Homo sapiens: one gene and its partner. The gene in region 2 interacts genetically with the main gene of each other region. Each region holds a gene or a part of one and is shown on either strand. Other genes may lie near its edges.

Evidence for each region.
Region 1: changes in CFLAR (region 2) and EHMT2 together harm fitness less than expected from each alone (positive genetic interaction), as found in Homo sapiens cells (one large-scale study listed by BioGRID).

What each region holds. Positions count from the first base shown.
Region 1 is NC_000006.12:31,891,141-31,894,798, forward strand, and holds part of EHMT2 (histone-lysine N-methyltransferase EHMT2), read right to left. Parts: intron 2,523-3,658; exon of another isoform or gene 2,222-2,522; intron 1,771-2,221; coding exon 1,686-1,770; intron 1,595-1,685; coding exon 1,554-1,594; intron 1,423-1,553; coding exon 1,267-1,422; intron 1-1,266. UniProt on the Homo sapiens protein: Histone methyltransferase that specifically mono- and dimethylates 'Lys-9' of histone H3 (H3K9me1 and H3K9me2, respectively) in euchromatin.
Region 2 is NC_000002.12:201,168,081-201,171,738, forward strand, and holds part of CFLAR (CASP8 and FADD-like apoptosis regulator), read left to right. Parts: 3' UTR 1-3,658. UniProt on the Homo sapiens protein: Apoptosis regulator protein which may function as a crucial link between cell survival and cell death pathways in mammalian cells. Acts as an inhibitor of TNFRSF6 mediated apoptosis.

The DNA of each region.
Region 1 (3,658 bases), on a different chromosome or scaffold from region 2:
CTCCATGTTGATCAGGCTGGTCTCGAACTCCCAACCTCACGTGATCTGCCCGCCTTGGCCTCCCAAAGTATTGGGATTACAGGCGTGAGCCACTGTGCCTGGCTGACCTAAGACAAATGTTAATCAAATCAAGGTGTGGGCCTCATTTGGATCTTGACAAAAACCATTTGTGAGAGCTGAGGAAATGTGAAGACTGACAGGATATTTGATGGTATTAAGAAATCGGTAAGTTTTTTTAGGTGTGAAAACAGTAGTGTAATGATGTTGAACGACAAAAAGAGGCCTTATATTTACAAATCTATATGGATATATGTTTAGGTAAAATGATATGAGGTCTGGGATTTGCTTTAAAATAACCTAGTAGGTGTGTGTGCTGGGAGATGTACAGATGGGTCAAGATGGACTGTGTACTGATAATGGCTGGAGCTGTGTATTGGGTACATGGGGGCTCCCTATTCTACTCTTTTGATTATGCTTGCAAGTTTTCATGATAAAATGTTAAATAAAAGGCAAAATCAGAGAGACTAAACATTCTACTGTGTAGGCAAACATATAAGATAAAACCAGACAAAGAGCAACGAAATAAGCAAATAAATGACAATGCAATGCTTTTGAATTTTATATAAACAGCATAACGTATGTTTTAAAAAAGTGCTTTCTGGTCATTTCTTTTTTTGTTTTCTTTTTTTAAACAGTACATGTCTGTTAAATGGTCATTTCATTAGCTGATTAAAAAAAAAAGAATACTAAATCCCATGTGCAGGGTGGTGGCCACCTTTGTGGATGAAACGGGCAGAATACACATTGAAAATGAGTTACAGCTGGGCGCGGTGGCTCACAGCTGTAATCCCAGCACTTTGGGAGGCCAAGGTGGGTGGATCAACTAAGGTCAGGAGTTAGAGACCAGCCTGGCCAACACAGGGAAACCCCGTCTCTACTAAAAATACAAAAATTAGCCGGGCGTGGTGGCAGGTGCCTGTAATCCCAGCTACTCGGGAGGCTGAGGCAGGAGAATTGCTTTAACCCTGGAGACAGAGGTTGCAGTGAGCCCAGATCGTGATATTGCGCTCCAGCCTGGGCGACAGAATGAGATTCCGTCTCCCCCCACAAAAAAAAGGAGTTATAGACAGCATGGGGCAATGACTTAGTGGATATTCAGAAGATAAAAAGGACAGAAAGCAGAAAAACAGGGAACAAGGAGGACTGGACAGTGAGCCCCAGCCCTGGGGGAGCACCGGCGGGGAGGGCAGACCAGCTCTGTCTCACCTTGCTGTCGGAGTCCACGCGCTCATCCACAGAGTAGGAATCATAGTAGAGACTGAAGTCATCACCCACCACCGTCTCCCACTCCTCCAGGGACCCGGGGTCCCCTTTCGTCAGGGTCACTTCTCCTGAACGCCGGGCAGAACCTAACTCCTCTGACTAGAAAAAGATCAGAAAAATTGAGGCCACTGACACCCTGCGCATTTCTACTGAGGATGGGATGCAGCCCCACCTCTGACCCTCCCTCAGAGCAGCCCCCGAGGGGTAGAGGCTCTGCCTCTGCTGCTTACCAGGCCACCTCCTGAGTTCAGCTTCCTCCTTTTGGCCAGATCTGGAAGAAGAGAGAGAATGGTGTGGGGCCTATCACCGAAACCTTCAGAACAGACCACATCAAGCCACCGGGGGTGGGGGATGGGACTGACCTGAGGTCACCTTTCCCAGTGAGTGGACATCATCACTCATGCGGAAATGCTGTATTTCAGGGGGCCGCTTCTCAGGGACCGGGGGCTGTGGGCCGAGAGGGAGCACACTGAGGGTCAGAGAGCACCTACAGTTTTGCCTGGGTTAGCCTGGAGCCCCAGGCGGGGGTGGGGTAGTGAGCCACACCTCCAAATGCCATGTGAGGCTCCAGTAGCCACAAACTGGCAACCACGGGTGCTATTTCCTCAGAGGAAGAGTGTCAAGCACACTAACACTCACTCATCTCTGCAACCATGCAGAGCAGGCCCTTTTCCATTTTACAGATGAGAAAACAAAGCTTAATAAAGTTAAAAGACCTTTTATATGTGGCCATATACACAGCAGGACTGTTTACAACAGCTGAGGTGCGGAAGCAACTCAAGTGCCACTGACAGATGAATGGATAAGCAAAATGTGGCATTTATACACAATGGAATAACATTCAGCCATAAAAAGGAAAGATATACTTTTTTTAAGAGATAAGGTCTCATTCTGTTACCCAGGATGGAGTGCAGTGGCATGACTATGGCTCACTTCAGCCTCGAACTGGACTCAAGCCATTCTCCTGCCTCAGCTTCCTGGGAAGCTGGGATTACAGGCACATGTCACAATGCCTAACTAATGTCTTCTTAATTTTTTTTTTTGGTAGAGAAGAGGTCTTGCCATGTTGCCCAGGCTGGTCTTGAACTCCTGGTGTCAAGTGATCCTCCCCAGAAAGTACGGGATTACAGGCGTGAGTCACTGGGCCTGGCCTTTGAAACATTCTTTTAAACTTCTTTTAGAGATGGGGTCTTGGTATGCTGCCCAGGTGAAAGGAAAGAAATTCTGACATGGTACAACATAGATGAACCTTGAGGACATTATGCTAAGTGAAATAAGCCAGTCACAAAAGGATAAATACTGTATGATTACACTTAGATAAAGTACTTACTCAAATTTATAGAGAAAGAAAGGACAGTGGTCCTTGCCAGGGGCTAGGGGGTGGAGGGAATGGAGAGTTATGTTTTAATGGGTACAGAGTTTCAGTTTTACAAGATGAGTTATGGTGACTGATGATTGCACATGATGAAAGTATTTAATACCATTAAATTATATACTTAAAAATGTTTTTTATTTTATTTTTAAATTTTTAGATGGAGTCTCACTCTGTTGCCCAAGCTGGAGTGCAGTGGCGCGATCTCAGTTCACTGCAGCCTCTACCTCCCAGGTTCAAGCGTTTCTCTCACCTCTGCCTCCTGAGTAGCTGGAACTACAGGCACATGCCACCACGCCCGGCTAATTTTTGTTTTGTTTTTTTTTTTGAGACAGAGTTTTGCTCTTGTTGTCCAGGCTGGAGTGCAATGGCAGGATCTCGGCTAACTACAACCTCTGCCTCCTGGATTCAAGCGATTCTCCTGCCTCAGCCTCCCAAGTAGCGGACTGTTACAGGCATGTACCACCATGCCCGGCTAATTTTGTATTTTTAATAGAGATGGGGTTTCACCATGTTCGTCCGGCTGGTCTCGAACTCCTGACCTCAGGTGATCCACCTGCCTTGGCCTCCCAAAGTGCTGGGATTACATGCGTGAGGCACCCCGCCTGGCCTAATTTTTGTATTTTTAGTAGAGACAGGGTTTCACTATGTTGGCCAGGCTGGTCTCAAACTCCTGACCTCAGGTGATCCTCCCGCCTCGGCCTCCAAAGTGCTGAGATTACAGGCGTGAGCCACTGCGCCTGGCCTAAAATTGTTTTTTAGATGGTAAATTTTACGTGACACTAGTCCCCTCTTATCCAGTTCATCAGCAGTGATGGTGGCATATTGTTAGAATTGTGCTATTTTTTTTGAGTCTCGCTCTGTTGCCCAGGCTGAACCGCAGTGGCGCGATCTTGGCTCACTGCAAGTGATTCTCCTGCCTCAGCCTCTCGACTAGCTGGGATTACAGGCGCACGCCACCAC
Region 2 (3,658 bases):
AAATACAAAAAATTAGCCAGGCGTTGTGGCGGTCGCCTGTAGTCCCTGCTATTTGGGAGGCCGAGGCAAGAGAACGGCATGAACCTGGGAGGTGGAGCTTGCAGCGAGCTGAGATCTTGCCACTGCACTCCAGCCTGGGCGACAGTGCGAGACTCTGTCTCAAAAATAAATAAATAAATAAATAATAAATAAAATGTTTGGAATGTTGGCTTCATCCCTGGGATGCAAGGCTGGTTCAACATACGCAAATCAAGAAACATAATTCATCACATAAACAGAACTAAAGACAAAAACCACATGATTATCTCAATAGATACAGAAAAGGCCTTCAATAAAATTCAACGTTGCTTCATGTTAAAAACTCTCAATAAACTAGGTATTGATGGAAAATATCTCAAAATAATAACCATTTATGACAAACCCACAGCCATTATCATACTGAATGGGCAAAAGCTGGAAGCATTCCCCTTGAAAACTGGCACAAGACAGGGATGCCGTCTCACCACTCCTATTTAACATAGTATTGGAAGTTCTGGCCAAGAAAATCAGGCAAGAGAAACAAATAAGGGGTATTCAAATAGGAAAAGAGGAAGTAAAACTGTGTTTGCAGATGACATGATACTATATCTAGAAAACCCCATTATCTCCACCCAAAAGTTCCTTAAGCTGATAAGCAACTTCAGCAAAGTCTCAGGATACAAAATCAATGTGCAGAAATCACAAGCATTCTATACACCAACAATACACAAGCAGAGAGCCAAATCATGAATGAACTCCCATTCACAGTTGCTAGAAAGAGAATAAAATACCTAGGAATACAGCTAATAAGATGTGAAGGATCTCTTCAAGGAGAACTACAAACCACTGCTCAAGGAAATAAGAGAGGACACAAATGAAAAAACATTCCATTCTCGTGGATAGGAAGAATCAATATCATGAAAATGGCCATACTACCCAAAGTAATTTATAGGTTCATTGCTATTCCCATTAAACTACTATTGACATTCTTCACAGAATTAGAAAAAAACTACTTTAAAATTCAAATGGAACCAAAAAAGAGCCCGTATAACCAAGACAACAATAAGCAAAAAGAACAAAGCTGGAAGCATCACACTACCCAACTTCAAAGTATACTGCAAGGCTACAGTAGCCAAAATGGCATGGTACTGGTACAAAAACAGACACATAGACCAATGGAACAGAATAGAGACCAGAGAAAGAAGACCACACATCTACAGCCATCTGATCATCGACAAACCTGACAAAAACAAGCAATGGGGAAAAGATTCCCTATTTAATAAATGGTGCTGGGAAAACTGGCTAGCCATATGCAGAAAATTGAAACTGACCCCTTCCTTACACCTTATACAAAAATTAACTCAAGATTAAAGACTTAATGTAAAACCTAAAACTATAAAAACCCTAGAAGAAAATCTATTTAATACCATTCAAGACATAGGCACAAGCAAAGGTTTCATGACAAAAACATCAAAAGCAATTGCAACAAAAGCAAAAATTACAAATGGGATCTAATTAAACTAAAGAGCTCCTGCACAGCAAAAGAAACTATCATTAGAGTGAACAGGCAACCTACAGAATGGGAGAACATTTTTGCAATCTATCCATCTGACAAAGGTCTAATATCCAGAACCTACAAGGAACTTAAAACAAATTTACAAGGAAAAAAACAACCCCATCAAAAAGTGGACAAAGGACATGAACAGACACTTCTCAAAAGAAGACATTTATGTGGCCAACAAACATATAAAAAAAAGCTCAACCTTACTGATCATTAGAGAAATGCAAAGGAGAACCACAATGAGATACCATCTCATGCCGGTCAGAATGGTGATTATTAAAAAGTCAAAAAACAACAGATGCTGGCGAGGCTGTGGAGAAGTAGGAACACTTTTACATTGTTGGTGGGAATGTAAATTAGTTCAACCGTTGTGGAAGTGTGTGTGGCTATTCCTCAAAGATCTAGAACTAGAAATACTATTTGTCCCAGCAATCCCATTACTGGGTATATACCCAAAGGAATATAAACCATTTTATTATAAAGATACATGCACATTTTTGTTCATTGCAGCACTCTTCACAATAGCAAAGACACAATAGCAAATGCCCATCAAAGATAGACTGGATAAAGAAAATGTGGTACATATACACCATGGAATACTGTGCAGTGCAGCCATTACAGCTTTTGGTGATACAGTGAATCAGATTTTTCATTAATTCTTTTAATTGGTTATTACTGAACGTGAAAAAGTAATGTTTGTATTGAAATCTTGAGTCTGGCCATGTTTCTATTTTAAATTCATAAAGAATTCTAACAAGAGGAATTCCAAGAATGTCATAAATGGATGTTTCTCCATGGATGAAGGAACTGTTTTATTCACTTGCTGATAATTCAGCCTAATCCAGTTTGACATCATATAGATAAGTAGTTGAATTATGGATTTAAAATACATATCATTTTCTAACTCCAAAGGTAATACTTATTTAAATGGTTTTGAAAATATAGAAAGGCACAATTTCTTTTTAAATCTGTTATTCTCCACCACCACTCAATCTGTCTATCATCTATCTCTCCATTCATTCTTCCATTTGTTTATATCTGTTAATCTTTGTATGTGTTCATGTATAGCTTTTACATGATTGGAATCATAATGCATATTCCATTTTGAAGTCTGCTTTTTTTTACACAAAAATATGTTGTGAATATTTTCCTATATTATGAAATATCATTAGCTGAGCTTTTAGAATTGACTGCATGTTTTGGTACCATTTAGATATAGTTTAAGATACTTAGAAGTTATGTGGCTTTGCCACTATGGATGAATCTTATTTACTCAATATTAATTACTTACAAATAACCTCACCTAAACACTACTCAGCCATAAAAAGGAATGAATTAATGACATTCACAGCAACCTGGAGACTATTACTCTAAAGGAAGTAACTGAGGAATGGAAAACCAAACATTGTATGTTCTCACTCATAAGTGGGAGATAAGCTATGAGGATGCAAAGGCATAAGAAGGATACAATGGACTTTGGGGACTTAGGGGAAAGGGTGGGAGGGGGGTGAAGGATAAAAGAATACAAATTGGGTTCAGTGTATACTGCTCAGGTGATGGGTGCACCAGAATCTCACAAGTAACCACTTAATTACTTACGCATGTAACCAGATACCACCTGTTCCCCAAACACCTATGGAAATAATTTTGTTTTTTTTTTTAAAAAAGGAATGAGATCATGTCCTTTGCAGGGACATGGATGAAGCTGGAAGCCATTATCCTCAGCAAACTAACAGAGGAGCAGGAAACCAAACACCACATGTTCTCACTTGTAAGCGGAAGCTGAACAATGAGAACACACGGACACAGGGATGAGATCAACACACACTGGGGCCTGATGCAGGGGCCGTAGCGGGGAGAGCATCAGGATAACTAGCTAATGCATGTGGGGCTTAATACCTAGGTGATAGGTTGATAGGTGCAGCAAACCACCATGGGACACGTTTACCTATGTAACAAACCCGCACATCCTGCACTTGTATCCAGAACTTAAAATATTTTAAAAATCTTTAGAGAATACAAAAAAAAAAAAAAAGATTCTTCAATGCATACACAATAAAATTGCAGTTCAGTCAAACA